Homo sapiens: one gene and its partners. The protein of the gene in region 1 interacts with the protein of each later gene in a pairwise test. Each region holds a gene or a part of one and is shown on either strand. Other genes may lie near its edges.

What was found.
Region 2: the proteins of LRCH3 (region 1) and MYO6 interact in binary tests that used the Homo sapiens proteins (3 or more experiments, as listed by UniProt).
Region 3: the proteins of LRCH3 (region 1) and DNAAF11 interact in binary tests that used the Homo sapiens proteins (3 or more experiments, as listed by UniProt).
Region 4: the proteins of LRCH3 (region 1) and DGCR6L interact in binary tests that used the Homo sapiens proteins (3 or more experiments, as listed by UniProt).

The regions. Positions count from the first base shown.
Region 1 is NC_000003.12:197,864,226-197,871,258, reverse strand, and holds part of LRCH3 (DISP complex protein LRCH3), read right to left. Parts: intron 5,837-7,033; coding exon 5,788-5,836; intron 5,148-5,787; coding exon 5,040-5,147; intron 1,100-5,039; coding exon 981-1,099; intron 1-980. UniProt on the Homo sapiens protein: As part of the DISP complex, may regulate the association of septins with actin and thereby regulate the actin cytoskeleton.
Region 2 is NC_000006.12:75,913,239-75,920,037, reverse strand, and holds the end of MYO6 (unconventional myosin-VI), read right to left. Parts: intron 5,976-6,799; coding exon 5,757-5,975; intron 5,226-5,756; coding exon 5,026-5,225; 3' UTR 501-5,025; downstream 1-500. UniProt on the Homo sapiens protein: Myosins are actin-based motor molecules with ATPase activity. Unconventional myosins serve in intracellular movements. Myosin 6 is a reverse-direction motor protein that moves towards the minus-end of actin filaments.
Region 3 is NC_000008.11:132,672,543-132,679,827, forward strand, and holds the start of DNAAF11 (dynein axonemal assembly factor 11), read right to left. Parts: upstream 3,004-7,285; 5' UTR 2,952-3,003; coding exon 2,942-2,951; exon of another isoform or gene 2,016-2,941; intron 1-2,015. UniProt on the Homo sapiens protein: Involved in dynein arm assembly, is important for expression and transporting outer dynein arm (ODA) proteins from the cytoplasm to the cilia. Acts as a crucial component in the formation and motility of spermatozoal flagella.
Region 4 is NC_000022.11:20,317,047-20,324,572, forward strand, and holds the start of DGCR6L (protein DGCR6L), read right to left. Parts: upstream 3,015-7,526; 5' UTR 2,943-3,014; coding exon 2,833-2,942; intron 2,754-2,832; coding exon 2,593-2,753; intron 1-2,592. UniProt on the Homo sapiens protein: May play a role in neural crest cell migration into the third and fourth pharyngeal pouches.

The DNA of each region.
Region 1 (7,033 bases):
TATAATGAAATCTAATTAAAAATCAAGATAAAAAGGAAATAAGTACCACAATATCCATTTTATCCCTCTATCCTAAGTTTAACTTAAGGAGATCTAATATATATGGACGGCAGCCAGGGCATAGTGGTACAAAGTACAACAAAAATTCATTTACAACTTTCTGATTAAAAAAAAAAACCTAGATTCTCCTTCAATTCCAACATAAAATAAAGAGGCAATCACTCACTATATATGTGTAAGTGTGATATTTATATATGTGTGCACACACATATAAATTATTACTGACAATATTTCTTTATAACAGGAAGTAGAAAAAAGGAAAAAATTTAAATGAGTAGAGCTAGGAATTGAGCTTTATAGAATAAGCCATCTATCTCATTTTCTAAGTAAATAGCTGAAAAGAATTTCCTTAATAGCAAAATGTTTACATTCATCACAAAACATGGCACACAATGGGCACTCATTTAATCTGTTAAAAATTACAGCCGGGCGCGGAAGCTCACGCCTGCCATCCCAGCACTAATCTGTTAAAAATTACAGCCGGGCGCGGAAGCTCACGCCTGCAATCCCAGCACTAATCTGTTAAAAATTACAGCCGGGCGCGGAAGCTCACGCCTGCCATCCCAGCACTGTGGGAGGTCGAGGCCAGTGGATCACCTGAGGTCAGGAGTTCGAGACCAGCCCGGCCAACATGGTGAAACTCCTTCTCTACTAAAAATACAAAAACTAGCTGGGTGCAGTGATGGGCGCCTGTAATCCCAGCGACTCAGGAGGCTGAGGCAGAAGAATTGCTTGAACCCACGAGGCATAGGCTGCAGTGAGCCAGGATCATGCCACTGAACTCCAGCCTGGGTGACAGAGTGAGACTCCGTCTAAAAAAAAAATAAATAAAAATGATGTGTCAAATGAAGACGTGATCACAGGATTATGATCTATAGCAGTAATACTGAAAAAGTGTAAATCAAAGGTAATGTACATACTTTACGCAGTTGGTCTATTAATTCCAGCTCTTCTTCTCTCTGTCTTGAATTCTGTCCTGTTATGGAATCTGTAGAATCAGTGGTAGGTGCAGCAGATGGAGGAAGGGGTGAAGCATGACCTATAAAAATATTAATATGTAAGACAGAAAGGCAACTGGCAGTGCTAGGAGAACATCCGGCTCTGCCTCATCACAGTTTCCCTGCAAGTGCAGTGCATGGCTTTCTACCTCCTGCAGGTACAGTGCATCGCTTTCTACCTCCTGCAGGTACAGTGCATGGCTTTCTACCTCCTGCGGGTACAGTGCATCGCTTTCTACCTCCTGCGGGTACAGTGCATCGCTTTCTACCTCCTGCAGGTACAGTGCATGGCTTTCTACCTCCTGCAGGTACACTGCATGGCTTTCTACCTCCTGCAGGTACAGTGTATCGCTTTCTACCTCCTGCAGGTACAGTGCATCGCTTTCTACCTCCTGCAGGTACAGTGCATCGCTTTCTACCTCCTGCAGGTACAGTGCATCGCTTTCTACCTCCTGCAGGTACAGTGCATCGCTTTCTACCTCCTGCAGGTACAGTGCATCGCTTTCTACCTCCTGCAGGTACACTGCATGGCTTTCTACCTCCTGCAGGTACACTGCATGGCTTTCTACCTCCTGCAGGTACAGTGTATCGCTTTCTACTTCCTGCAGGTACAGTGCATCGCTTTCTACCTCCTGCAGGTACAGTGCATCGCTTTCTACCTCCTGCAGGTACAGTGCACGGCTTTCTACCTCCTGCAGGTACAGTGCACCGCTTTCTACTTCCTGCAGGTACAGTGCACCGCTTTCTACCTCCTGCAGGTACAGTGCACGGCTTTCTACCTCCTGCAGGTACAGTGCACCGCTTTCTACTTCCTGCAGGTACAGTGCACCGCTTTCTACTTCCTGCAGGTACAGTGCACCGCTTTCTACTTCCTGCAGGTACAGTGCATGGCTTTCTACCTCCTGCAGGTACAGTGCATCGCTTTCTACCTCCTGCAGGTACAGTGTATCGCTTTCTACTTCCTGCAGGTACAGTGCATCGCTTTCTACTTCCTGCAGGTACAGTGCATCGCTTTCTACTTCCTGCAAGTACAGTATATTGGTTTCTACTTCCTGCAAGTACAGTATATTGCTTTCCACTTTCTGGATTGACTTTTTAAAAGGGTTTTTATTATGGAGATTTTCAAATATACACAACAGAGAATAGTATAGAAAAATATGTAATGTTCATTACCCAGTTGACTCAACTACTTTTGTTTGATTACATCCACTTAAAAATGTTTTTATTGAAAATTAATACACAGAAAAATACACAAATCGTAAGCACAGTGCTCAAAAAATTCTCCTCACCAAGTGAACACAATCAGGTTTTTAATGCAATCTTACCAATCCCAGGAGCCCCTTCCATGCTCCTTGCCCATAAGTACCCAACGTGCTCAAAACCGCACCCTGACTTCTAACACTGTAGGCTGGTCTGGTTCATTTTTGAACTTTGTATAAATTATGCTGTATTGTATGTATTCTTTTGCTTCTGGCTTCCTTTGATCAATGGTAAGTTTATGAGATTTATCCATGTTGCTGTATATAGGAATTGGTTCATTTTCATTGCTTATATGGTATTCCATTGTACAAATATACCACAATTCATTTATCCATTCTCTTGATGGACATTCAGTTTCAGGCTATTATGAATAATGCTGCTATGAATATTTTTGTACACGTTGTTGGTACACGTGTGTACATATTTCTCAAAAGTAAAACTGCTGGTCATAGGGTACACAGTCATCCGTCAGTATCCAGGGGAAATTAGTTCCAGAAACCACCTCTCTCATACCAAACTTTGTGGACGCTCAAGTCACTCATATAAAATGTAGTATTATTTGCATACAAACTATGCATATCCTCCTTTATACTATACTTTAAATCATCTCTGTTACTTACAATACTTAATACAATGTAAATGCTATATAAATTGTTACTATACTGTATTTCAAAATTAGTATTATTTCTTTATTGTGGCATTGTTTATTATCGTTGTCTTGTTTCTGAAGATTTTTCTGTCCATGACTGGTTGAATCCATAAATACAGAATCTGTGGGTACAGAGGCTGACTGATAACAGTCTTCCATGCTTTCTTACACTCTCACCAGCAGTGCATCTGTAGTTTGACTTTTAAATCTTACTGTGAATGCATCTGTTGGTAACATTGAAGGTAAGTTGTGTTTTTTTTGTTTTTTTGAGACAGGGTTTCACTTTGTTACCCAAGCTGGAGTGCAATCGCGCAATCTTGACTCACTTCAGCCTCAACCTCCTGGGCTCAATCCATCCTCCCGCCTCAGCCCCACAAGTAGCTGTGACTACAGGCCTGCACCACCATGCCTTTTTTTGTTTGTTTGTTTTTGTTTTTGAAACGGAGTCTCGCTCTGTCACCCAGGCTGGAGTGCGGTGGTGCGATCTCGGCTCACTGCAAGCTCTGCCTCCCGGGTTCACACCATTCTCCTGCCTCAGCCTCCCGAGTAGCTGGGACTACAGGCACCTGCCACCATGCCTGGCTAATTTTTTTTGTATTTTTAGTAGAGATGGGGTTTCACCGTGTTAGCCAGGATGGTCTCGATCTCCTGACCTCGTGATCTGCCCGCCTCAGCCTCCCAAAGTGCTGGGATTACAAGTGTGAGCCACCGCACCCAGCCAATTTTTTGTATTTTTTTAAGAGATGGGGTTTTGCCATGTTGCACAGGATGGTCTCGAACTCCTGAGCTCAAGTGATCCCATCTACCTCGGCCTCCCAAAGTGCGAGGATTACAGGCACGTGCCACCACGCCTGGCCTATTTTTTAATTTTTTTTGAGACATAAGTTTCACACTGTCATCCATGCTGGAGTGCAGTGGCGCAATCTCAGCTCACTACAGCCTCCACCTCCTGGGTTCAAGCGACTCTGCCTCAGCCTCCCGAGTAGCTGGGATTACAGGCGCCTGCCACCATGCCTGGCCAGTTTGTTACTCTACCGCCCAGACTGGAGTATAGTGGCGCCATCTTGGCTCACTGCAACTTCTGCCTCCCAAGTTCAAGCAATTCTCCTGCCTCAGCCTCCTGAGTAGCAGGAATTACAGGCGCCTGCTGCCACACCCGGCTAATTTTTGTATTTTTTCAGTAGAGACGGGGTTTCGCCATGTTGGCCAGGCTGGTCATGAACTCCTCAAATGACGTGATCTGCTCGCCTTGGCCTCCCAAAGTGCTGGGATTACAAGTGTGAGCCACCGTGCCCAGCCATTTTTTGTATTTTTAATAGAGACAGGGTTTCACCACGTTAGCCAGGCTGATCTCAAACTCCCGACCTCAAGTGATCTGCCTGCCTTGGCCTCCCAAAGCACTGGGATCACAGGCGTGAGCCACCACGCCTGACCTTATTTTTGTTTGTTTGTTTGTTTGTTTGTTTTAAGAGACAGAGTCTTGCTCTGTTGGCCAAGCTGGAGAACAGTGGTGCTTTTAATTATAACTCATTGTAACCCTGAAGTCCTGGGCTCAAGCAATCCTCCCCGCCAGCTTCCCAAGTAGCTGGGACCACAGGCACACACCACCATGATAAAAGTTGTTATTTTTGACTTGAAATGTTTGTTTCCACTCCCAGGTAACTTCTTTGGGGACCAGGGAGAAATTTGTCATTATTAACTAAAAGAACATGAGACTTAAAGTAGATTTTAAAACAATTATTGTTTTAAGAAAACAGCTTTTATCAATAGAAAAATGTGAAAAAGAGTTCATTACCAAGACAAAGAACATTCTCTAAAGCCTCGAAAGCGCATTTTATTTGTTCAAACACTCTATAACCTGCTTTTAGGTGGCACTAAGAAACTTTCTCATCCAAACAAATTCAGATAAGATTTTCCTGCTTTAGTATCAGTGAGATCACAGACACATGCTTTTGCCGAGCTGATAGCTTTGTCTTATACTATATGCAGAAGTTTAAAAGCATCCATCTAACAGCTAGCGTCGTTGTGTAAACCTCCCCTCGCTCCTGGCTTTTAAAATCACCACCACCTACCTTTGTTGGTTTCTGCCCTGACACCTGCTCGGAAAAGGAAGCTTTCAGGGCGCTGAGGCTGATTTCTCTGGATAGCAGCAGGAAAAGAATATGCAGGGGAATGATGAACTAAATTAGCATGAAAAATAAAATGAGATTAAAGGAGATGAAAATATAATAGCAGACATACAAGTTACAAAAGTAACAAGTAAAAAATAAACATGGCAATGATATAAAATAATTCTATTTAATGATGAAAAGTCTGGTACAGAAAATAATCATGAAACCAGGAGGACCGCTTGTATGTATTTTACATTGTCATGTTATTTTTGGTGTTATCAATAAAGGCAGAATGAATGTTATCATATTGAACAGTCTCCCGCAGACCTACGGCTGTTGTTCACTTATTCATATCAAATGGCTGACTAGCTGAGCAACCAATTTAATTTAAAAATGGGAAAAAAAAAAAAAAACCCAGTGGTTTCCAATTCTGTATCTGATTTCTATCTCAGAAAAAGCAGCCACAGCTCTCTAACAAGTAATTTAGGAAAATCTTGGTAAAAAATTATAATCTTAGCCGGGTGCTGTGGCTTACATCTGTAATCCCACCACTTTGGGAGAACAAGGCAGGAGGATCCCTTGAGCCCAGGAGTTTGAGACCACCCTGGTCAACACAGAAAGGCCTCGTCTCTATTTATTATTATTTTTTAAATAAAAAAATAAAGAATTATAATCTTGATGTGGTTAATTGCACCTTTGTGTCTATTACCTGTTTCTGTTGCAGGTGAACTTAATAGAGCATTAGGTCTGTCATCACTCTGTGGAGAAACAGACATATATCAATAATTGTTATTCAAGAAGAAATACTTTCTACTTTTATGGTAATTTTGAAATTATAAAAGACAAAAAACAGGTAACTCTCCTTCACGATTAAGTCTAGAGGTGAGAATTTGGGTCAGGTGCAGTGGCTCATGCCTGTAATCCCAGTACTTTGGGAGGCTGAGGTGCGAGGATTACTTGAGAGCAGGAGTTGAGACCAGCCTAGGCAACATAGTGAGACCCTGTCTCTACAAAACGTCTAAAAAATTGGTCAGGCATTGTGGTGTGCTCCTGTAGAGGCTGAGGAGGGAGGGTTGCTTGAGCCTAGGAATTAAAGACTGCAGTGAGTAATGATTGTGCCACTGCACTCCAGCCTGGGTGACAGAGGGAGACTCTCTCTCTCCCTCTCTCTCTCTTTTTTTGAGACAAGGTCTCACTCTTGTTGCCCAGGCTAGATTGCAATGCCATGATCTCCCAGGCTCAGGTGATCCTTCTACCTCAGCCTCCCAAGTAGTTGAGACTACAGGGACACATCACCATGCCCAGTTAATTTTTGCATTTTTTGTAGAGACAGTGTCTTGCCATGTTAGCCAGGTTAGTCTCAACCTCCTGAGCTCAAGCGATGCACCCGCCTCAGCCTCCCAAAGTGCTGGATTATAGGCATGAGTTACCGTGCCTGGCCTGACCCCCTTTGGAAAAAAAAAAAAAAAAAGAAGAAGAAGAAAAAGAAATGAGGATTTGGTGAAATGAATTAATTCTGTATTTTTAAAAGCCAAGTTTTTGTTTTTTTGTTTTTTGTTTTTTTTTTTTTGAGATGGAGTTTAGCTCTTATTGCCCAGGCTGGAGTGCAATGGCACGATCTCAGCTCACCACAACCTCCGCCTCCCGGGTTCAAGCAATTCTCCTGCCTCAGCCTCCCAAGTAGCTGGGATTACAGGCATGCACCACCATACCCAGCTAATTTTTTTGTATTTTTAGTAGATACGGGGTTTCTCCATGTTAGTCAGGCCGTTCTCGAACTCCCAACCTCAGGTGATTCGCCTGCCTCGGCCTCCCAAAGTGCTGGGATTACAGGCATGAGCCACCACGCCCAGCTGTTTTTATTTTTTATTTTTGAGATGGAGTCTCGCTCTTGTTGCCCAGGCTAGAGTGCAATAGAGCACTCTCAGCTCACCACAACCTCTGCCTTTCGGGTT
Region 2 (6,799 bases), on another chromosome or scaffold:
GGAAGAGCTGATGAGGTGAGATGGACAGAGTCTCCTTCCACTCTCAGAGGACCCAGCAGGATCATGGTAGGTTCTTGACACAGGGAATGGACCAGCTATATTCAAGGCCTTAGGGAGAAGGAGCCTTCTTTTGGTCCCCAGTTTTTACATCCTGTGTCTTCTCACAGATTAGTAACGGTCTGGAGAAAGGCAGCCAAAATTTGGTGTGTCTCTAATCTCTACAAAATGAGTAGCTGTCACTCACACAGAATCCTGCCTGTTTCCTGGATGGAGATCACATAGGAAATTTGGGGCCTATGTCCAAAGAAGTTTCAATCACCTTGAGTTCCTTGCTTCTTCCTGCAGCCACCTAACACAGTGCTTCCAGCCCTAGCGACTGGATCAAGCTTCAGGAGCCCAGAATTCGCCAACTTATTCCATCTGAAACACGGCAATAAGTGCAACATTTACAACCTGTTCATGACACCCTGTAATGGTATTAAAAGCACAAGATGCAAGTGGAAATTCTACACAGGGAGCATTTATTTATTTGTATTTCCAGTACATCAATTTTTAGAGAAAGCATTAGATATACACTTTTAATGAAATGAGGAAAAATTAATTGACAGTTTGACTAGATGAATTTTCATAAGTAAAAAGAAAACACCCAACTAATAAGCCTGTGATTTAAAGGTGAGATGCTACTTGGTACAAATTAGGATTGAATGTGTAGATATGGACATAAAGAGTGGAATAACCGACATTGGAGACTCCAGAAAGTGGGAGGCTGAGAAAAGGTTTAGGGATGAAAAATTACCTACTGGGCACAATGTATGCTTCTCTGGGTGTTAGGTACACTAAAAGCCCACATTTTACCACTATGCAATATACCCATGTAACAAAACTGCACTTGTACCCCCTAAATCTATTTTATTTTTTGAGATGGAATTTCGCTCTTGTTGCCCAGGATGGAGTGCAATGGCGCCATCTCGGCTCCCTGCAACCTCTGCCTCCCGCGTTCAAGTGATTCTCCTGCCTCAGCCTCCCAAGTAGCAGGGATTACAGGCACCCACTACCACGCCTGGCTAATGTTTTGTATTTTTAGTAGAGACAGGGTTTCACCATGTTGGCCAGGCTGGTCTCGAAGTCTTGACCTCGTGATCCACCCGCCTCGGCCTCCCAAAGTGCTGGGATTACAGGCGTGAGCCACCGCGCCCAGCCCTAAATCTATTTTTAAAAAAACAAATTTGTACTGAAGATTCTCCTTTTGAATGTGCATTAATTTTTCCTGATCATCTCTTGAAAAACTTCTGAGACAGCTAAGCTTGTTTCATATATTAGGTTAGCAATGGGGAAAGAATACAGTGATTTGAATTGAACTAAAGCGTACTCAGAGAAGTGCTCCCAGCAGAGTAGGTGCTACTTCTGCCAGTCTCTCCATCTTACCCTTCCATGAGGCTTATGTACAGAATGCCTATTTACTGCTGACCTTCTCCAGTATGGCAGTGCCATTCCTATGTGCTAAGAATGTATACACCGGGCATATCTTGATCCAAGTTTTAATAACCATACGTTCTGATCCTATAAATTACACATTATTCATTCTAAAATTTCGTAGAGATCTAGGAGTGCTCTGTGTCCTAAAATGTATCAGTGTTTCCAAACTGGGGGTGCAGAATCTTTAGGGGCACACAACCTGTCTCTTCCACTGTTGCTCTTCTCTTTCCTTATTGTTACAACTGTTTCCCCCCCTCTAACATGTCCTTATTCTCATGTTTAGATATCCTTTGCCCTCCCCTTCCATCCTTGTTAGTTTATCTTCTGGGAGAAATTTTAAAACTCTCAATACTTGTTATTATTGGTAATGATAAATAGGGAAAACCTGTCACACCTTCTGAAGTTGTGGAATGACAGAGAGGCAACCCTTTGTAAATCCACAGGTGCCACTAAAAAGTGTTTGTTTTGGTTCTTTTTGTTACATATGATTGCAGCAAAGGCTTTGATATATTTTTCAGTCTACAACTAAATTACTTGACCTCTCTGGATCTGTTACCTCTTCCATAAAAGGAGGCAGGTCTATCACTAACATCATATTAATTGGCTGACTGATTGATTCAATAAATATTTATTCTACTGATCCAAGTACTCTTAAGCTACTTCAGGTAAAAAAAAAAACCAATGATCTACATATTTGGATCGCTGAGAACCATAGTAATGACCTGTGAATGAAAATGTCTTTTAAAAAATATCCAATTAATAAAGCTCTACAAACAATACCATTATTCTTGCCTGTGGATTGCTATTCTCTAAGTGTTCACAACCACCACTGATTTTCCACTTAAGATGTTCTTTCCTTGGTTGCTTGCAAAACAAAATGGTTCACAAGAATGACCTATGAAAAGTCATTACAGAAGCAGAATGAGCATAACAATAGAATGCCTTTGTGTGGCCCTGTGCTCCTACATGCACTGTTTTGTTTCTTCCTCATATTTTCACAATCCTCTGAGAAGGTGCCATCTCCCCAACTTTACAACTAAGAAAACTCAATATTCTCTTAACATACGTGGATTAGAGTAACTTCCTTTTCTCAATTAGTTCCCATAACTCATAATACATATCTCAACTGTGTTACCACAATTAGGAATTATATTAAAATTGAATCAAATGTGAAAACATTCTGTCCTCTCATTTTAAATATTTTATGCATGCTGCCTTTGCAAAGCATATGCTATGGAAAGAACTGGTATTAAGAAAAGATTAGTTCTTTATATATAGTGGTTTAAACTTCTAATTTTAAATCTCAGTTAAAATGATTAAAATATGAGTGAATTTACTTTTGATTTCCACAGTTTTAACCTGGCATGCATGGGCTTGACTGTGAACATGGTAAAGCAGCTGCATGAACATCATTTAGGACACCACTCCTGCTGTTTCCTTTAAAAGGCTGACAGGGTCCTAAGTTTCTCCAGCAAAGGGGTGTCTGTGTGTATGTGCATCTACTGTACGTAGGTTACTGTAAATCTATCTGAATTAGGGCAGTTGCCCTGCTGGCCAAAATTAACTCAGGAAACTATTTTAAATAGATAAGTTCTAGGACAGCTGTGTGACATGATTAGAAACATTATGGCTTAAGATTAACTATAATTGTATTAACTATTAGAGTCAAAAACTAAGGACTTATAACAACCCTTTGCTGTGATACATTTCTTACAAATTTCTGAAACATTAGATTCTCTCATTTAAATATGTTTAACTCTTTAATTTTCCATCTAGTGCCTATTAATGTATCTAAAAGATACACAAAACTATTGTACTAAAGAGACATGTCATTAAAAAACAATTTGGCTACTAAATTTTGTTCAAGAACTTTACTCACTACTGGTTAGGAAAAAAGCTTATCATTCACTATCCTACACAAATAAAAACACCAGTTAAAGGCGAGAGATGGAAGAGAGAGAATAGGTCATTTACTTCAGTAGCTACACCTTCTGTCCCCAATCACAGGGACGAAATGACCCGAGGGTGGGTGAAGCTATGCAGTAATACAGCCTTCAAAAGATAATCACATTTGCATTCTCAATAGCACAGACACAACCATTTAATTTAACTTGACAATCATTTGAATGTATCATAATAAATAAATATTTCTCTACTAAGACATGAGAGAAGCAATTCTGAAGACAGTGTCTGTGGCTCACAAACACTAGTCAGCTGGGAAATACTTCCCTAACTGAGGTAATCTTTCTAGGGAAAAAAGAAATCACTGGAATTTCATTTCAAAGGTTAGGGTCTCTAAAAACTGGGGGAAAAAGCAGTACAGAGAATCATTTTACTTTATAATTTTATTCTAAAATACAACAAAACTCCTTAGAATTATGTCAGCATAACTCCTTGATGTATTTTTGTCTTTAAATTCCAAATGTGAAAGTCATAAATATTAGGCTTAAAGCTGCTGACATTTGAATCAATACTAACAGCACACAAAGAAAACATTTTAAAATTATCAGTTATGTAAAACAAGCACTTACTAAATACAAGGATTTCTGAATTACAAAGCTTATGAAACAGGTCTACAATTACCAAAACCTCAAAGGCCAAAAAAGACACTAGGAATTTCTTAAAAAGAAAGATGTTGGAAGCAGAACACTTACTAAATCAATGAAACAACTTGGACAAGATTCTGATACAAAAATCACTATTGAGATGAAGTTGAAAGAATATTTGAATTCAGTCCAGTTAAGCCACTATGCCACCTAAAACCTATTTCCTTTTCTAATTGAAACAAAACTTATCTCAAAACTTTTAGGCATTTAAACAATCTGAATTTCCTTTATTTTTCCACAGAATATAAAAAGAATATTCTGACAGCAACACACATTGTGCTAGCAAAGAAAAGCAAATCTGTGCTGGATACTATTAGTACCTCTTATCACAGAATACATCAAATACATTAAGGCTCTTTCTAGAATTCTAGAACTTCGAAGTGTTTCATTCAAACTAAGACACTGCAAAGGAGGAAAAAAATAGATTTTCCACCTTTAATGGAAATTTCCAAAAATGTCTGAAAATGTCTATAAAGTACACAGCTTTTCAGACCAAAACATTAGTGCCTTGATCATTTTAAGTGGTTTAGTTATTGTAAGAATGTAAGCTCATGTTTTATTACTCCAGTTATATGGTACTGTGCCATCCTTAAAAAGTATTTTGAATTTTGAAAAAAGTTCTCTTTTCCTAGAGAACAATTACGATGGATGTAAGGTAGTCTTCTGGCAAAGGATGAGAAACATCAGAATATGCCCATGTGTAATAGTTAGAGAATAATGAGAGTTTTGGGAATTACAGCGGGATACAGAAAAATAATGTTTAGGTCCAAAATTTGCTACCATAATTAACCTTAAACAAATTCACCAAAAGCCGTGATTAATAAAATCTGTTCACTTTATAGAAGTAACTCTAACATGATTATGGAATGGTTAAATCTGGGGGCACACACCCTACCTAAGTACCATGGCAAAGGCTCCCAGCTGTAAGGCTGGTGTGCAACATCTACTTTAACAGACTCTGCAGCATGGCTGTTGCATAGGTGGGCCGAGCCTGTCTGCTCTCAATCGCATTCTGAAGGTACTGGATGCCTCCACAGCGTTCCCAGATTTCTTCAAACTGTCTTGGCAAGATCTCAGCACCACGCTTCCGAGTCAGGCCAGTCTCCTCAAGATTCAGCTCACACATCTCCATGTCGTCCTTACCTGTATTCATGAGATATCAGAAAATTACCATCTCTCTCTTCAGGACCATTTCTTACCAGTTGTATGCCTGAAATACCTATTAATTCTCATAGATTTGAAAACTTCCTAAGACTTTTTCTCTAAGATGGAAATCTGCTTAATAAAATCACCAGAAACAATTAAAATTTGTCCCCCATCAAGGACCCTTTCAATATTAATAAACACTGCTATTGATCAAACAAGTTACCAGAGTTAATAAAAATGCTACATTTCCTCAAGCCACTACAAATCAATGGATATGATGAAACACAAATGGAAAGGTTTTTAGGATACAGACAAGTTTCTATGTGCTAAGAACATAATTTAATCCAAGCAATTTCACATTATAAATGAGTTAATCCTCACTGAACTGGAAATGTGATTTAACCGCAAGACTCCATCCCTCAACCCTGAAATGTAATAAATTATTATATTATACATTAGAATGTTTCATTCAGAGAGTTTATGATCTTTTTTGTTCTATAATTTGTTTTCCATGTGAATCATACACACCAGCCACAAGTAGGATGGGTGGCTTGTCAGGATGGAGTTCCATTTGCCGGGCAATCCATGGTCCATCAAAATGGGCATACCACCAGCCTTTTTTCTTACTCTGAGGGTCTTTGTACTGGTCGGCAGGGCGGATGAATGGGATGCGGAAGAAGCGTTGCTGTCGGTTCATTTCAATCTCCCGCTGCCTGGCAGGAATCTGAGCTGCTGGGTTTTGCTGAGCTATTACACAGAACAAGGAAAGTTATACCAGCAGCTCAAGGGAAAAGAAAAGAGCCTTTAATCCTAAAATATACCCCAATAATTTTTTAAAAAGAAGAAAGGTCCCTAATAGTAAATTTAAAACAAAATGAAAATATTTATTGCCTACAAATTAATAAAATTCAGAGTGTTACTTCTTAGAATTGTCTTTCCCTTAAGATGTTTCTTAGCATTGCCAACACAAACACACACATACCACTACCACCACCACTACCAGCAACAAACCCCTGTCAGATTCCCACAAATCACTGTAACAGTAACCTAAAATAAACTCACACGGCAGGAAAACAAACTACTATTATTTACTAGATTTATATTCTTCCTGTAAAGAGTTCAAATTTGTACAGTAACTTTTATTCAACTATTTATGATAGAACAAAATAAACAGTAATTTCAAAAATCTGAAGGATGTAGACATTTGTCAGTTTAATCACTATTTCCACAAAAAGTAGAAGCCATATAAAAATTTTTTCTTTTGCCAACAAATTTTAGGATTTAAAATGACCACAATGACATAGATATTAACAACATTTAGACAACCATATGACAAAAAAAACCTTATAACAGTAAGCATAAACTTTCCCTTAAAGATATTTACTTACTCTGAAATCAGATTTCTCTTAGAATAAAATCCAATGAAGTGCAAAGTATGTAACATTTGATTCTCCTTGCCAAAAGAAAAGAAAAATCCTTGCTTTTCTACTAGTACTGGGCATTTCATTCATATCAATCTTTCATTCCTAGCTCAATTTTCATTACTTAACAATTAGGTTTTTCTTTTATCT
Region 3 (7,285 bases), on another chromosome or scaffold:
CTGTGTGGCACTGGGCACGCTGCTTAACCTCTTTGTGCTCCAGATTCCTCATCTGCAAAATGGAGGTGATGATACTAGTGTCTACCTCAAAAGATTTTTGTGAGAATTCAATGAGTACACACACAGAGAAACTTTCAGAACACTGACTAGAAGGCAATAAGCAGCTCAATAACTGTGAGTGAGCTATTATTATCATCCTTTCTCAGGAGCCCAAATTTCTCCTTTAGTTGAAGGAGGTTGAGAATTGTGGAAAGAGCCGCGAAAGCCGGGAAGCTCGTATCCTAGGTTCGACGTCTCTCCTGACTGACGGGATGTGACACTGGCTGAATCAATGTTCCCCTCCTCATCTCTAAAATGAACAGGTACACTAGATGAACTCTCGAGCACGGTCTCTCTAAAACCTGTACTAATGACATCCCTGCGTCTTTTTTTGGAAAATACAGGAAAGGCAGCGGAAAAAAGGGCACACAGGAGCAGTCAGGAGATGTTAGCAAGAGGCAGAAGGCCATTTATTGGGAAGCACGGGGGAGAGAGAACATGTAAAAAGGGTTTGTGGCACAGCAAAAGAGGACCACTTTCTCCACCCACATCTTTCAAATCTGTCCACTCGCCTCAGTCCTGTGGGCGGCAGTGCGGTGTAATGCAGGACCCAGAGGAAATCTTCGTGGGTTCTGTTCCCAGCCCTGATAGTTACTGTGTGATTTACTCTCTGTGCCTCACCAAAGAAATAGAGATGTCAGTAATCCTTCCCTGCCTTAAAAGGCTGCTGGGAAGATCAAACAAGAGAATGCAGGTAAAGCATGTTAACCAAGCCTGGCACATCAGAGCTACTCATTGGAGGAGTGCTTGTCATCTGTCCTGTTGCCACGACCTCAGTTCAGCCTACTATCTCCCACTCGAACTCCTATAGGGCCAAGCTATGCCCATGAACAAAACCTTTTGGTTTCTCTGTGGCTCTTTTGATAAATTTCTAAATCCTAAGTACAAAACCTGTATGAGCGGATCCCTGCCTACCTGTCAGGCCTTCCTTATCTCTTTGCTCTCCACTCCTTCTTTCTGTCTCACACCAGTTCCTGTCAGTGACAATTAGCCACCAAGAAGCCCTGCTCTTTCTCACCTCTGGGCAATTCACTGAGCTTTCCTGTTTCCTTTCCAGACAGCACTGCTTCCTCAGAGAAGCCTCCACCCACCTTGGGGTTAGGTCCCCTACCCACACCCTCAGGGCACAGGCACCCCTCTCTCTCCTGGCTGTAACCACTATACTTCTGTTTGTCTTCTCCCTCCCTAGGAGGGTAGGCCCACATCTGCCTCCTTCCTCACTGTATCCTGCATTCAATACCTGATTCAAGGTAGACACTCCGATGCAAGTCTGACAAGTTAATGATTTAACAAATCAAAGTGGGCACGACTCAGAGAAAGAGGGCAAAGGAAAATTCCCGACATAAAAAAGCGAAGAAGAAGGAGAAGGAGAAGGAGGAGAAGGAGCAGGAGGAGCAGGAGCAGAAGGAGCAGGAGGAGGAGGAGCAGGAGGAGGAGGAGCAGGAGGAGGAGGAGCAGGAGGAGGAGGAGCAGGAGGAGGAGGAGGAGGAGGAGAAGGAGGAGGAAGAGGAGGAGGAGAAGGAGAAGGAGGAGGAGGAGAAGGAGGAGGAGGAGAAGGAGGAGGAGAAGGAGGAGGAGGAGAAGGAGAAGAAGAAAAAAACCAACTAGGGTGAGACCAGGGGATGGGGAGACAGCCCTGAGAAGAGAGGAAGAAATATCAGTAGCTGATTTAGGAAAGGAGTTTCAACATTTACAAATCACTCCCCCCCGACCCCCACCTCTCCCACTTGCAGGCTGTCAGGTCTTCCAGGGCAGAAAGCCCATCATCTGGAGCAGTCTCTTGATTTAAAAAAAGTTAATTATGACATTTTTACAATGATAAGTGATCAATTAGGTAGAGCTGTACAAAACTGCCATATGGGGAGCTCAAAAACGTTGTCGATATCAAAATGGTTCATACAATATAAATAACTTACCCGCATCACCTTGCAGTTTGTTAGTATATTCTTAAAGAAACACGTTTACTACCGGGCGCAGTGGCTCACGCCTGTAATCGCAGCACTTTGAGAGGCCGAGGCGGGCGGATCACCTGAGGTCAGGAGTTCGAGACCAGCCTGGCCAACATGGCAAAACCCCGTCTCTACTAAGAATACAAAAATTAGCCTGGCGTGGTGGTGCACGCTGTAATCCCAGCTACTCAGGTGGCTGAGGCAGGAGAATTGCTTGAACCCGGGAGGCGGAGGCTGCAGTGGGCCGAGATCGCGCCGCTGCACTCCAGCCTGGGCGACAGAGCAAAACTCTTGTCTCAAACAAACAAACAAAAACACGTTTATAACACTTACTGTGTCTAAAACAGTAGTATGATTGCCATTATTTTGGAGATGAAGAAGCTGAGGCCCAAGGGGTGAAGTCACTCGCTCAAAGTCACAGGAAGAGGGAGGACTTCAACCCTGGCTCCAGAGTCGGAACCCTCCACCATTAGGCTACACTGCCTTCCGGAATGAGTCCGAAGATTGCGGCTTGGAGACAGTGACTGGCCCACGTTCACAGCCAGTAAGGAGCCACTTGGCCGGAACGTGGTGTGTCTGGCGCCAAAACCCCTGCACGTTCCCCGACCCCTTTCCTGGAGTCCAGTGCCTTTCTGCCTCTTCCTCCCCTTCCCACGGCCCCGCCCATTTTACAGATTAGGAACCTGAGCTGGAAAAGGCCAGGCTGTCCGGCCAGTCTGCAGAGGACCTGGTGCAGCCGGGGCTGCGGTGCGGAGGGCCGGGTGGGGTTAGGGTCCGCCCAGGCGCGGGGGAACCGACAGCGCAGGGCGGGAGCGGGCGGCGAGGATCCCACGAGACCCGGGACTACTTCCACAAGGGGAACGATCGAGGACGGAAGGTGGAGGGGGGCTTACTCCAGCCCATGGCGCCTCTCCAGTTCGCTGACCCCGCAAGCCGGACCCGGACCTCGAATGACGCTTTTCACCCTTCACCCCTGCTCCTCAGCGCGTCCCCGTCGGAATTCAGGAGCCATGGCAACGGGGACTCTACGGCGGCCGCGCGGGACCAAAACAAGCCGCGTTTCCTGAGCTCCGCGGAGCAAGCAGAGGAGACCGCAGTGAAGGGGCTCAGCAGACAGGGGTTCCCCAACCCAAACCCAGTCTTCGTCCTCGTCGCACTTCCGACTTGCCACAGACTGCTTCCCTCTCCCTGAATCAATGGTTTAGAGTGAACAAAGTATGAGGACGCTTCTCTTTTCTGTGCCTTCCAGGCTTGCCTTCCAGACCGCCTTTGACTTTTTCCTTTTTGTGTTTGATTTACAGCTTCCAGAGCCAACAGATCTGGATTTGGCCCCCAACTCTACCAGCGGCGTGACCTTACACTTCCTTCTCCTCAGTTTGCACATCTGTAAGATGAGAAATAACCTAAGAGGATCACTGTGAAGCTTTAATTAGATAATTTGAGTGAATGAAAGACACTATGAAAACAACAGGCTCACTATAAAGATTCGTTGTCGTTGTCATATTCCAGCTTTTTAAAGTCACTCTCCAACACTCGTTTCCGGCTAACAAGCTTTCCAGAAACGCCACCCATTACCCCCTCCATCAATTTCCCTATTCTCCACTCTCTTAATTGTAAAATGTAGGAAGTATATCTCCTACAGCCCCACACTCCCCTCACGTTTCCCCAGACCCTTCTCCAAAAGTGTGCAACGCGCCTTCTCCCATTCTAAACTAGGAAGCACATCAGCAAGCTCATTCACCCTCAGATCTTAGTGTTAGCACTTTAATGCGTTAGCTTCCCAAGAATCTTTAAAAGGTACCATTATTATGAAAGTAATTATTATTCTTTACTCCATTTGCAGAAAAAGGAGGGGGGCAATATGTAAAAGGTAAAACCTTCTCCCATCCCAGTCGTTTTAAACAGTATGGAGTGCGTGCTTCTTATCTTGATGTGTGTATTATGTTTGCATTTTAAAAGAAGATTCCTAGAGCAATGCTGAGTGCAAAGAAATTAATTTTTCTAGCGAATAGCTGTTAAGCATTTACAGCTGGCAATTATTAGAGTTTGCCAGGTAGAGACAAGGTCATGAACTTGGACAGAGAGGCAGGAAAGTCTAACAGAGTGAGGTGATGGGGGGAAGCAGAAACATCAGTTTGGCAATAAAGAGAGCTAGATAGAAGGGATCTTCGAACAGTAAGAATGAGAGATTAGATCGGGGGTAATGGGGGCCTTAAATGCCAGGCCAAAGGAACTGAACTGGAAGAGTGGGATTTCAGGCACTATTTCCCTGAATATTTGGATTTCCAAGGAGGCCTCCCAAAAGGCACTCAAACTATAAACTTACCTGACATCCACTATTATTTTTCTGAAAGCAGGTTAGTGTGAGGTGAACAGTATTAGCTCTGGCATTGGAAACATAGATTAAATACACAGATTTATTACTGTGTGGCATCAGACAGATGACTTCACCTTTGAAAGCTGAAACTTCTCTATTTCCACATGATGATGACAATATGGGTAAACATCTGTGGTCGTGCCACTGACACGCTGACACTGACACGTGACACTGAGCACTGATGTCTGATTACTCACAAAGGAGATGAAATGCTATTAGCAGCAGGCAAGTTTAGCAAATTCGCCTGTGCTTGAATTGTGCATTTTAACAACAAGGGGTTCATCAAGGCTAAAAAGGATCTAGCTTCTAGAAGGAAGCTACTACTGGGCAGAAAGATTAGTTTCTAAGCTGACAAAAGCATGAGGTCAGGCCTACTATAAAGGATCTCAGCTTGCAGTGAACTAGGATTGTGCCATTGCTCTCTAGCCTAGGTGACACAAAGAAACGATGTCTCTTAATAAAAATTAAAAAAAAATAATAAAGGATCTCAGCCTCTGGATCAGGAGACAAAGGGAGCCACTCCAGAACCGCAGAAAGTTCTCAAGAGCAATTGCAACCCAGGTATTTGACATGTTGGCTCTAAGCTTCTATCCTCACTCTCAGACCTACTCACTGTTGACTTAAAAAAAGAAACTGAGGTAAAATTAATATATATAGTCCCAGCTACTTGGGAGGCTGAGGTGGGAGTACTGCTTGAGCCCAGGAGTTCGAGGCTGCAGTGAGCCATGATCACTGCACTCCATCCTGGGCGACATAGTGAGACTCTGTGTCTAAAAAAATCGGGGTGCTGGTGCGTTGGGTGCCTGATGAGAGCCTGGTCTCCACTTCCAAGATGGTGCCTCATTGCTGCATTCTTCTGAGGAAAGGAGCCCTCTGTCCTCACATGACAGAAGGGATAGAAAAGGTGAAAAGGGGTGAACTCCATTTGGCAATCCCTTTTATAAGGGCATCTAATCCTATTCATGAGGGTGGAGCCCCTGTGACTCAATCACCTCCTTAAGGCTATGCCTCTTAATACTGCTACATTGGGGATTAAATTTCAACATGAATTTTGGAGGGGACAAAAACATTCAAACCACAGCAGCCCCTTTGACAACTAGAGAGTTCAAGAGTAAGATTGAGAGTTTAAGAGTGATGAGAAAGAAAATAAACTTTCTATCTGAGGAATGGGAGCACCCTTTAAATTATCAGGCCCAGAGAGGCACTGAAATGTGACAGCAGTCAAGTTCCAGTCCCCCATCCCCTTAAGCTAAGTAATCGTTTCAAAGCTGCCTGCCGTATGGACCCTAGACTGCGTGTTGCCACCAATGGCTATAAATAAACCTAACAATGCTGTACACTGGACATCATAACTCATTCCCTATAGTTTAACAATGTACAACCAATAACTAATCAATGTTATTTCTGTAAACCAGTGAGAATTCCTAACAAGCAACTTTCGTAGTCACCCGTTTCCTGATTAGTCCTTTTTTCTTTAAAACTGGAACCTCAACTTTGTTCTCCAGAGCACTTCCCAGTGTTTCCCAGGTTTCAGTCTTCAACCTTGGGACTATGTGTGTGCACCATCATGCCTGGCTAATATTTTTTTAGATTTTTTTATAGAGATAAGGTCTCACTGTGTTGCCCAGGCTGGTCTTGAACTCCTGGCCTCAAGAGATCCTCCCGCCTGGGCATCTTAAAGTGCTGAGATTACAGGTGTGAGCTACCGTGACTGGTGCCTAGTGCCCTTATATTGAACTTCCAATATTGGACTTTTATCAAGAATAAAAATAAATTTTTATATAAAAATAAATTTATAATTTATTAATATTTATAAGAATTTATAAGAATAAAAATAAATTTTTATTCTTGAGAAATGACTTAGTCTTAGATATTTCACTATAGAAGTAACAACAGACTAGGACATGTGCCTTGGATTTTTCCTGTGAAATTTTATATCTGTGGGACTCAAGTATTCTGTTCATTCATTCATAAGTGAATAAACAATTGGGCTGTCATTCTACTGGAGAAAAATCTCTAAGATACTTTTAAGCACTGTGCGCTCAACACTGCCCATGTACTTTGAAATTACTAACTCAATTCTCACAGTAACCCTCAAGCAGGTCATATTGTCATGAATATATTACAGATTAGGAAACTGAAGCCCAGTGATATTATTTTACTAAAGCATAGTGAATCAGAATTTTGTGCCTAAACCTTAATTCTATACTGCATCATTTTTTTAGACTGAGAGCTACTCGAGGGCAGAGAGGGAATTTTGTTATTGTTGTTTGTTTGTTTCCATCCCTGAATCCTAGCTCTCGCAAAATTCCTGACACTTATTGGGTGCTCAGTAAATATTTGTTGAATGATTGAATGGAGGAGTCAGTGAGCCAATTTCTTCAAGAGCTTGGCTGTCTTTGGTGTAAGGCCTACATCTTGTCACTTCAGTAGGATCACCAACCACAGAGGTGTCCCTGTTGTAAAGGAATCTAGCAGGCTTACCAGGAAGTGTACCTCATTCTCTGGTTATTGGACTGTTCTTTTTCTTGGGACCTTTTCACCAAAATCTAGGATAAGATCTGGTTCCAGGGGCAAGGTCTTGACAGATTGTCCTGACACTCTGGTGGAGCAGTGTTTGGCTCTGTGTTCCCACCCAATTCTCATCTTGTAATGCCCATAATTCCCACGTGTTGTGGGAGGGACCTGGTGGGAGGTAATTAAACCAGGGGGTGGGTCTTTCCCTTTCTGTTCTCGTGATAGTAAATGGATCTCACAAGACCAGATGGTTTTAAAAGTGGGAGTTTCTCCGCACAAGCTTTTCTCTTTGCCTGCTGACATCCACGTAAGACATGACTTGCTCTTCCTTGCCTTCTGCCAT
Region 4 (7,526 bases), on another chromosome or scaffold:
GGTCCCTGGCCAAAAGAAAAGGTGAAACCCAACACTCTGTTCCTGGGAAGAGCCCTGATGTTGCAGCTCTTCTCTGGTGGCCAGTCCCCAGGGAACTCCAGGGCCCCTGAGGCTCCCCTGCAGGTAGCCTGGCTCCCGCTGTGCCTACAGCCTTCCCCGATCTCCTGTCTCTTCACATTCTGTACACACCTCGACGATGGTATTTACCAAAAGCCCCCCTCAAGACAGCTCCATAACACAGGGAAGCAGGGAAATGTCATCTCCTTCACTCTACTGATCAAACATTGCTACAAGTGCCAGGTCCACTACCAGATTCCACTAGATAGACAACCAAAAGGCAAGAAGAGAGCCACGCTGGCTGCCTGGGCAGAAGGGGCCTGGCCTTAGACATGACCAGGGAACACAAAGGAGGCAGGAGCAGCCAGTCGCCCCTGCCAAATCAGCAGGAGAAGCAGAAAGTCAATGCAGGCATGCCTGCTGCTGGTGGAACCAGGGCCTGGCCCAAACCTTCTGAAGCACAAACAGCATTGGGCCCAGGCAGTTACTAAAACTCCCCATCCTGCTATAAGGAACTATAGCTCTGTGGAAAAATGGCCGATTCCAGGACTGAGACACGGAGAAAACAAGAAAAGATGAGCCTGAACACATACCTGAACCAGAAAGCAAGAAAGTGCTCACAGAATGATGGGGCGGCATCTAAAGGTGCCTGGAGCGCCCCCAACTGGCCACACATGGCACAGTCTGGGCATTAAGGAATAATGAGCCATGCGCTTGGGATTAGTAAACTACATACATCTTACAGCTCAATAAAAAATTTTAAAAAGACAATCGCCCAGACATTTAGGGGAAGAAGTAATGCCAATTCTACACAAACTCTTCTGGAAAACTGAAGAGGAGAGAACACTTCGAAACTCATCCTATAAGGCTGGCAAAAACCCTGATACCCAAACCAGATATTACATGAAAACTATAGACCACAGTTTATCATGAACATAGACCAAAAAATTCTTAAGATTTTAGCAAATCAAATCCAGCATACATAAAAAGGATACTACAGCACGACCCAGTAGGATGGAATTCAAGTGACTGTAATTCACTGTAGTAATAGAAAATGATTCACCACGTGATCATCTCAAGAGCTGCCGAAAAGGGAACTGCCAAAATCCAACATCCATTCTTGATAAAAACACACCAATCCTGGAGCAGATGGACACTGCCTGCCTTCTGGGGAAGGGGGCCTTGCACTGCTAGGAGAAATTTTTGCCACATTAAACCTGCTTCTAATCAGGCTTCTACCAGCAGTCCAGTGTACAGGAAACCCAGAGAGTGGAGAAGCAGGTTAAATGCAAGAGGAAGCATTTCGTCTGATAGATCAAGAGCAGGGCATTCTATAAAATTAGAATGCCCTGGACTCTACAAAAAAGTCAATGCCACAATAAATGTTGGGGACTGTTTCAGAAGCAAAGAGACCAAAGTAACCAATTGTAGTACATGAACTTGGACTGGATCCTTACTTATAAAGCAACAATTTGCCACAAGTTAGGTACCATGATGTGGCCGTGCACTGAAAGTCAGGAGACACCCGGAACAGTTAATTTCTCAGGGGGCTACCTTCTGCAGCTGTGTAGGAGACCAGTTTTGTTCTAGAGCACTTGCTCCCAATCCAAGGCCAAGGTTGACCCCACCACCCAGGTTGTCTGGAGGCATTCTTGGTTTTCAGGACTAGGGAGGGTACCCCTGCCATCCTGCAATGCGCAAGACAGCATCTCACCAAAAAGACTTACCCAGCCACAAATGTCAGCATGGCTGGGTTGAAAATCCTGGTCTCCAGGAATGCTGAAGACTCTTGGTGAATGCTATGCTGTCACATGTATATATTTTGGGATGTCAAGAACTAGAGCAAAACGTTAACTATTGAACTTTAGTGAAGAGCACAAGCGTATGCACTATACTATCTTTTCAGCTTTTCTAAATGTTTTAACTTCTAAAATAAGAAGTTTGGGAAAAATAACAAAGGTGGAAACTGATGGTGCAGGGGGACCTGCCCTATATAATTTGCAGGAAAGGGCTCCCAAGCCCACCAAGCAGGCCTGGCTCAAGTGGGAAGCTCTTCGGGTTTGGGAGGGCGCCACAGGAGACAGTGCTTAGGAATTTGATGTGCAACTGGAATGAGGCCCTGCGAGGCCTGAGAGGGAACTGACCCTGAAAGACGCTTGCTGCACAACTGTCAACAGACTTCCAACTACTGAGGGGCAATGCTGCTGCAGTCAGCGCCACCACCAGAGTCTGCCTGCAGGCCAATCAGGCACCGAGGCCTAGGGCCATCCTGTCTGGAAGCGCGTGGGGCACAGGGAAGCCCGAACAGGGAGTTTCTGCTAAGAAGGTGGGTGCTGCGCAACTGAAAACAAAACTGGTTGGACCCACTGATCACCAAAAAGGCGCTGTCTCAGTCTCTGCGCCCGTTGATTTTGTCAATCTTAGAGACCTCTTCCGAACACTTCCAAGGAAGGAGCTGATCTGCACAGATACCAAGAGCTGCCCGGAGGCGCCGACCCGGAGGAGGCGGCACCTCATCCCGCTGCCCCCGCGCACCTCGGTGCTCGTTCTGTAGGCGCAGGCGCTGGTTGTACAGGCTCTTTTCGGTGAGGTGCTGGATCTCCAGTAGCCCCTGCACGATTTCGAACACGGTGCCGTCGAGAAGCGCCAGGGCCAGGTCGCTGAGCGTGGTGTAGGACAGGCGCTGCTGGAAAGAGCTGCGGGTAGGGGGGCGCGGTGAGCCCCGGCGGGAAACGAAGCCGCCTCCGCAGGCCTCCGCCCGCCCCGCCTGCGTACCTGGGCAACTCCTTCACCAGGCTCTGTAGCGCCGACAGCAACTGGTAGTGTCGCTCCTGCTGCCGGGCACCGTCCGCCACCTCCTCCAAGGCGGCCGCGTAGCGCTCCATGGCGCGGACGCCCGCTAGCCGCCGGCGGCGGCGACGAGCTCCCCCAGCTTCACGACATCCCGAGCGCGGCGCGTCCCGCCCCTTTTACGATTGTCCCACGCGCGGCGCGCTCCGCCCCCTTTTACGACAGTCCCGAGAGGGCCTGGCCGCCTGCCCCGCCCTGCCCCGCGCCCCGCCGCCTGCTTATTCAGGAGGCGCGCCCCGCTCCTCTGCGGAGACTCCAAGGAGGGTTTTGCTCAGCCCAGGCTCGCACCTGCCTGCTCCCCGCGCGACATTAAAGGCGAGACTCCGCCGTCTGGATATCGCAGGACCACGGAGAATCCCACCGGCCCTTGCTGAGTCATTGCGGGCCGAGGTCCGGGCTCCGCGCCGGCGCGCCTGCGAGGTGGACTGTCCCGGTCACCGGCCTCCCCAGAGGCAGGGGTCTCGGGCCAGAGCCCACAGGACCTGGGTCTAAGGCACCATCCGCGGCCGAGCAGTGGCGCTGGGGTCTGTCTGCGTCCTCCCCGCCCCCGGGGTGAGACAGACAGGACCGCCCTAGAGCCTCTGGGTCAGGACAGTCGGAGCCAGAGTCCCCATCTGGGCCTCCGTGGCCCCCAGCCCGTGAGCCCAGACTGCGCTCTCCCCGCTCCACAGGCCAGCTGCTGGGCCGGGGCTGGGGGGCTTCTGGTGGCTGGGGCTGAACCGTCTAGGAACAGGCTTTAATAGGAGGGGCTCGGGTGGAGGAATGGCTCCTGCAAAGGCCCTGCCAGAGTCAGGTCAGGTGGGTGGGCGAGAGGACCAGTGTGGCCAGGCTGCGGAAGCCAGCACAGGAGACAAGGGCGGGTGCTGTGCATTACAGAGGCTGCTGGGGGCTTGTCCATAGAGCAGCAGGGGGCACGGAAGGGCTTGGGGACGCAGACACGATCAGACTTGCATTTCATCAGGCACTCTTTAGCTGCCTGCTGGGTGGCTGGGCTGTGTGAGATGACCCTGCTTTGACCAGGTTAGGAATTATGACTGGTTTCCAGAGAGAACATTGGTTAGTAATTGGCTATGGGGAAGAGGGGGCGTTGAGCCAACCAACTGGGGTCCCCCTGAAGTGCCAGCAAAGTGTCTGGTTTTCTCCAGGATCTGTTTCCTCAGTCCCTGGCAGGATTGGCTCCCCTGCACGCCATGTCCTTGTGGTCCCTTCCAGACAGAAACCAGGCATGAATAAAGTGAATAATGACAAGCGCTCAGGCCACTGCCGTGGAGGGCGGTCCACAACCCAGAGCTGGTCATGCGCCGGGCACCCTGGCCTCCAGGTCCCTCAGAATGGCAGGAGCTGGAGGTGGGACTCGAGATTGTGGGAGCTGAGTCTGTAGTGAGTGACCAGGAGCCAGCTGGGGCTGGGCTTGGTCACTGTCACCTCCCCCGGAGGTGGTGAGTGGGATGATTAGCTGGGTGAAGACGCCTGCCTGTTTCACCAGTGTCCCTGCCCTCAGTCCCCCAGTCCATGAAGAGTGTCTGTGTGGAGACTGGGAGGATATAGGGCAGCCCCACGTGATGATATGTCTGTGGCCAGCTGGGCAACACTGTCGCCAGCTCCGGGGTCTGCCAGGTGGGGTGGGGGCTGTGAGCCACAGCAGGAGCAGGCCAGGCCTGGGTTTGGACACCTGCTCCTCTGCCTTGTCCGGGTGCTGATGCAGGAAGGCCCCTTCTCCAACCCTTGGTGCAACGTCTGACCTGAACCAGCTTCCCCAGCCCAGCAACACTGCTCCCCTAATGTGGATGTCAACCTAAAGAAACAAACTGAACCACAGTTCATATAGAGAGTTTGTCTGGGCCAAGGCTGAGAGAGCTGCCCAGGACACACCAAGTTGCCCTGGGAGTGCTTCATTCAGCCTTATTACAAGCAAGTTTTTAAAGACTGAAGGGGACAAGGAGTGGGCTGATATGAAGTCAGCAGGAATTCTGACTGCTTTCCAGAGAGAACCCTTAGTGACTGGCTATAAGGTGTTGGACTACTGGGTAAGAGTTATGGTGTCCAGCGTATGGCTTTTTATGCCTACTTGGTGTCAGTCTGGAACCCACAGAGCAATTGGCTTCAAGAGGTCGTTAGCTCAAGTAGGAGTGGGATGTGACTGCTGTTTCATTCCAGTGCCTCTCTGGGCCAGATAATTAAAGGGAGCTCACATTCCTCAGATAAAAAAGTTCCTTTCGCATTAGGAGAAATACGTAATGTAGATGATAGGTTCATGGGCACAGCAAACCACCATGGCACGTGTATACCTATGTAACAAACCTGCACGTTCTGCACATGTACCCCAGAACTTAAAAGAATATATATATGAATATATATATATACTTTATACATATATATATAAACTTCCATTGTGCGCGCGCGCACACACACACACACACACACACACACACAAAGTTCCTTTTCTTTTTCATGGACATGAGCAGTATGTCACTCAGGCATGGGGACTCCTGGGCCACCTCTGGGTCTTCAGGGAGGGCCTGGTCTGGAAGGAGGGGTCTCATCCTCCAGAGCCCCAGGGATGGGTGATATATGTGTAGGAATGGGGGAGCTGGTTCGCAGACGTGCGTTTCCCCTGTGTGTGTGGACACGATGGGCCCCATGGCTCTTCCCGTCGGGTGGTATCCACCGAAGGCCTTTGCTCTGCGGCCACTGTCCACCTCCACTTGGCCTCCCGAGTCCACCAGGCTGGCTGGTGACACCTTGGGTTAGTGTGGGGTGACTGGTGTGTGTTGGGGAGCTGCAGGTCCCCTGTCTCTGACACAGCTGTGTCTGGGCAAACACCAAGGTTTGAAGGAGTGGGTGCCTGTGTGTGTGTGTGTGTGTGTGTGTGTGTGTGTGCGCGCACGTGTGTCAAAAGGCTTTGCTGCATGCCTTTTGTGTGGCTCTTTGTCACATGTGCCTTTCTGTGTTTCTCTGTGAGTTTTCATGTGTCAGGTTGTATGTCTGTTGTGTGGGCGGAGAAACAGCTCTGCTGTGGGGCCCTGAGCCATTGCAGGATCCCCATAGGCCATGCAGAGGTGCACACAGCACCTGACCTAAGCCTGCTCCTCCCAGAACATCAGGCTGCACCCAGGCCACCGCTCACTCCGTCTGTCTCCCGAGACTGTTCCTCACTTCCTGCCTCACTGGCCCTGGTGAGGGTGAGGCTCCCTGCCCCCGGCCCTCAAAACAGAGCTGCAGATGAGGACGCCACCCAGCTGCAGTGTCAAGGGGCTCCTCCACAGTGGGTGTCCCGCAACGCATGCTCTCTGACCCCTTTTGTTTCAGTGTTGTCCTTTTTAGTGTGTGGCACCAGGACAGCAGGGAGCTGCCACCTCAGGCTTCTCTTATTTTCACTCTGTGAGTAATAAGGTCTGAATGAGAGGGGCTCATTGTGTCTTTACTGTCAAATCAGTCAGGCCTTGGCCTTGGCATGTCTTGCGTGTGCTTGACAAATGTATTGCTCATGGGGTCTGGTGGAGGCACAGCACCCTTTTAGAAGACAGGGTCTGTGCGGACCAGTTACGGGTGACATTTCCTAGGCACAGCTCTTGCCTAAGTGGTGTGGGATGGGAGGAGGGCGGGGCTTCCCACTGTCCCACCAGCAAAATGGGCTGTGTGGCCAGCTCCTCAGGACCCGAGAGCATTTGCTCCAGGTTGATAAAATGTTGCGGTGTTGGGTGGCAAGAGTAGGATTGAAACCAGCCACCCAGTTGGTGCTTTGTTACCATCAGAAGTGTTTGCTGAGTCAAAGCAAATGGCCACTCAAAACTGAGTGGGCTGAGTGTGGTGACTCACACCTGTAATCCCAGCACTTTGGGAGGCCAAGATGGGCAGATGGCTTGAGGCCAGGAGTTCAAGACCAGCCTGGGCAACAGGGTGAGAGCCTGTCTCTACAAAAAGTTTAAAAAATTCGCTGGCATAGTGGCATGTGCCTGAAGTCCCAGCTACTTGCCACTTGGGAGACTGAGGTGGGATCACTTGAGCCCAGGAGGTCCAGGCTGCAGTGAGCTGAGATCACACCACTGTACTGCAGCCTGGGCAACAGAACAAGAATCAAATAATAAATAAGTAAGTAAGTGAGTAAATCCATCCATCCACCCCAGAGTGAGTCAGCTGGGGCTGCTGCATTGCTCCTCCCTCACCCACAGGATTCCCTGGTTCCAGCCAGGAGACGATGGTCAACAGCCACTGCTGTAGTGGTGCCTAGTTAAAACTCTTTGGTTTCTGTCTCTGTAAAAAAAAGTGTCTAATTGCATTTGGGCAAAAAACTTGCAGTGAAGAGAGAAAAAGAGATGAAAGCAACCTGTGAGGGAGGCTCGGGTTGACGTGCGGCATGTGCTGTTTGAGTGTGATGAGTGTGTCGGTTTGCACTGTAGATGCTCAGGAAGTGAGGATATGTGGAGTGCTGACTGTATACATGATGCCTCCACTGGCTGGCTGAGTAGAGTTTCATGAAACAATGTTGGTGGACTCAGCCCTGAATCCCTCAGGCATTCAGAGAGCAACCTCTGTCTTTTTTTTTTTTTTTTTTTTTTTTGAGATGGAGGCTCGCTCTGTTGCCCAGGCTGGAGTGCAGTGGTGCAATCTCGGCTCGC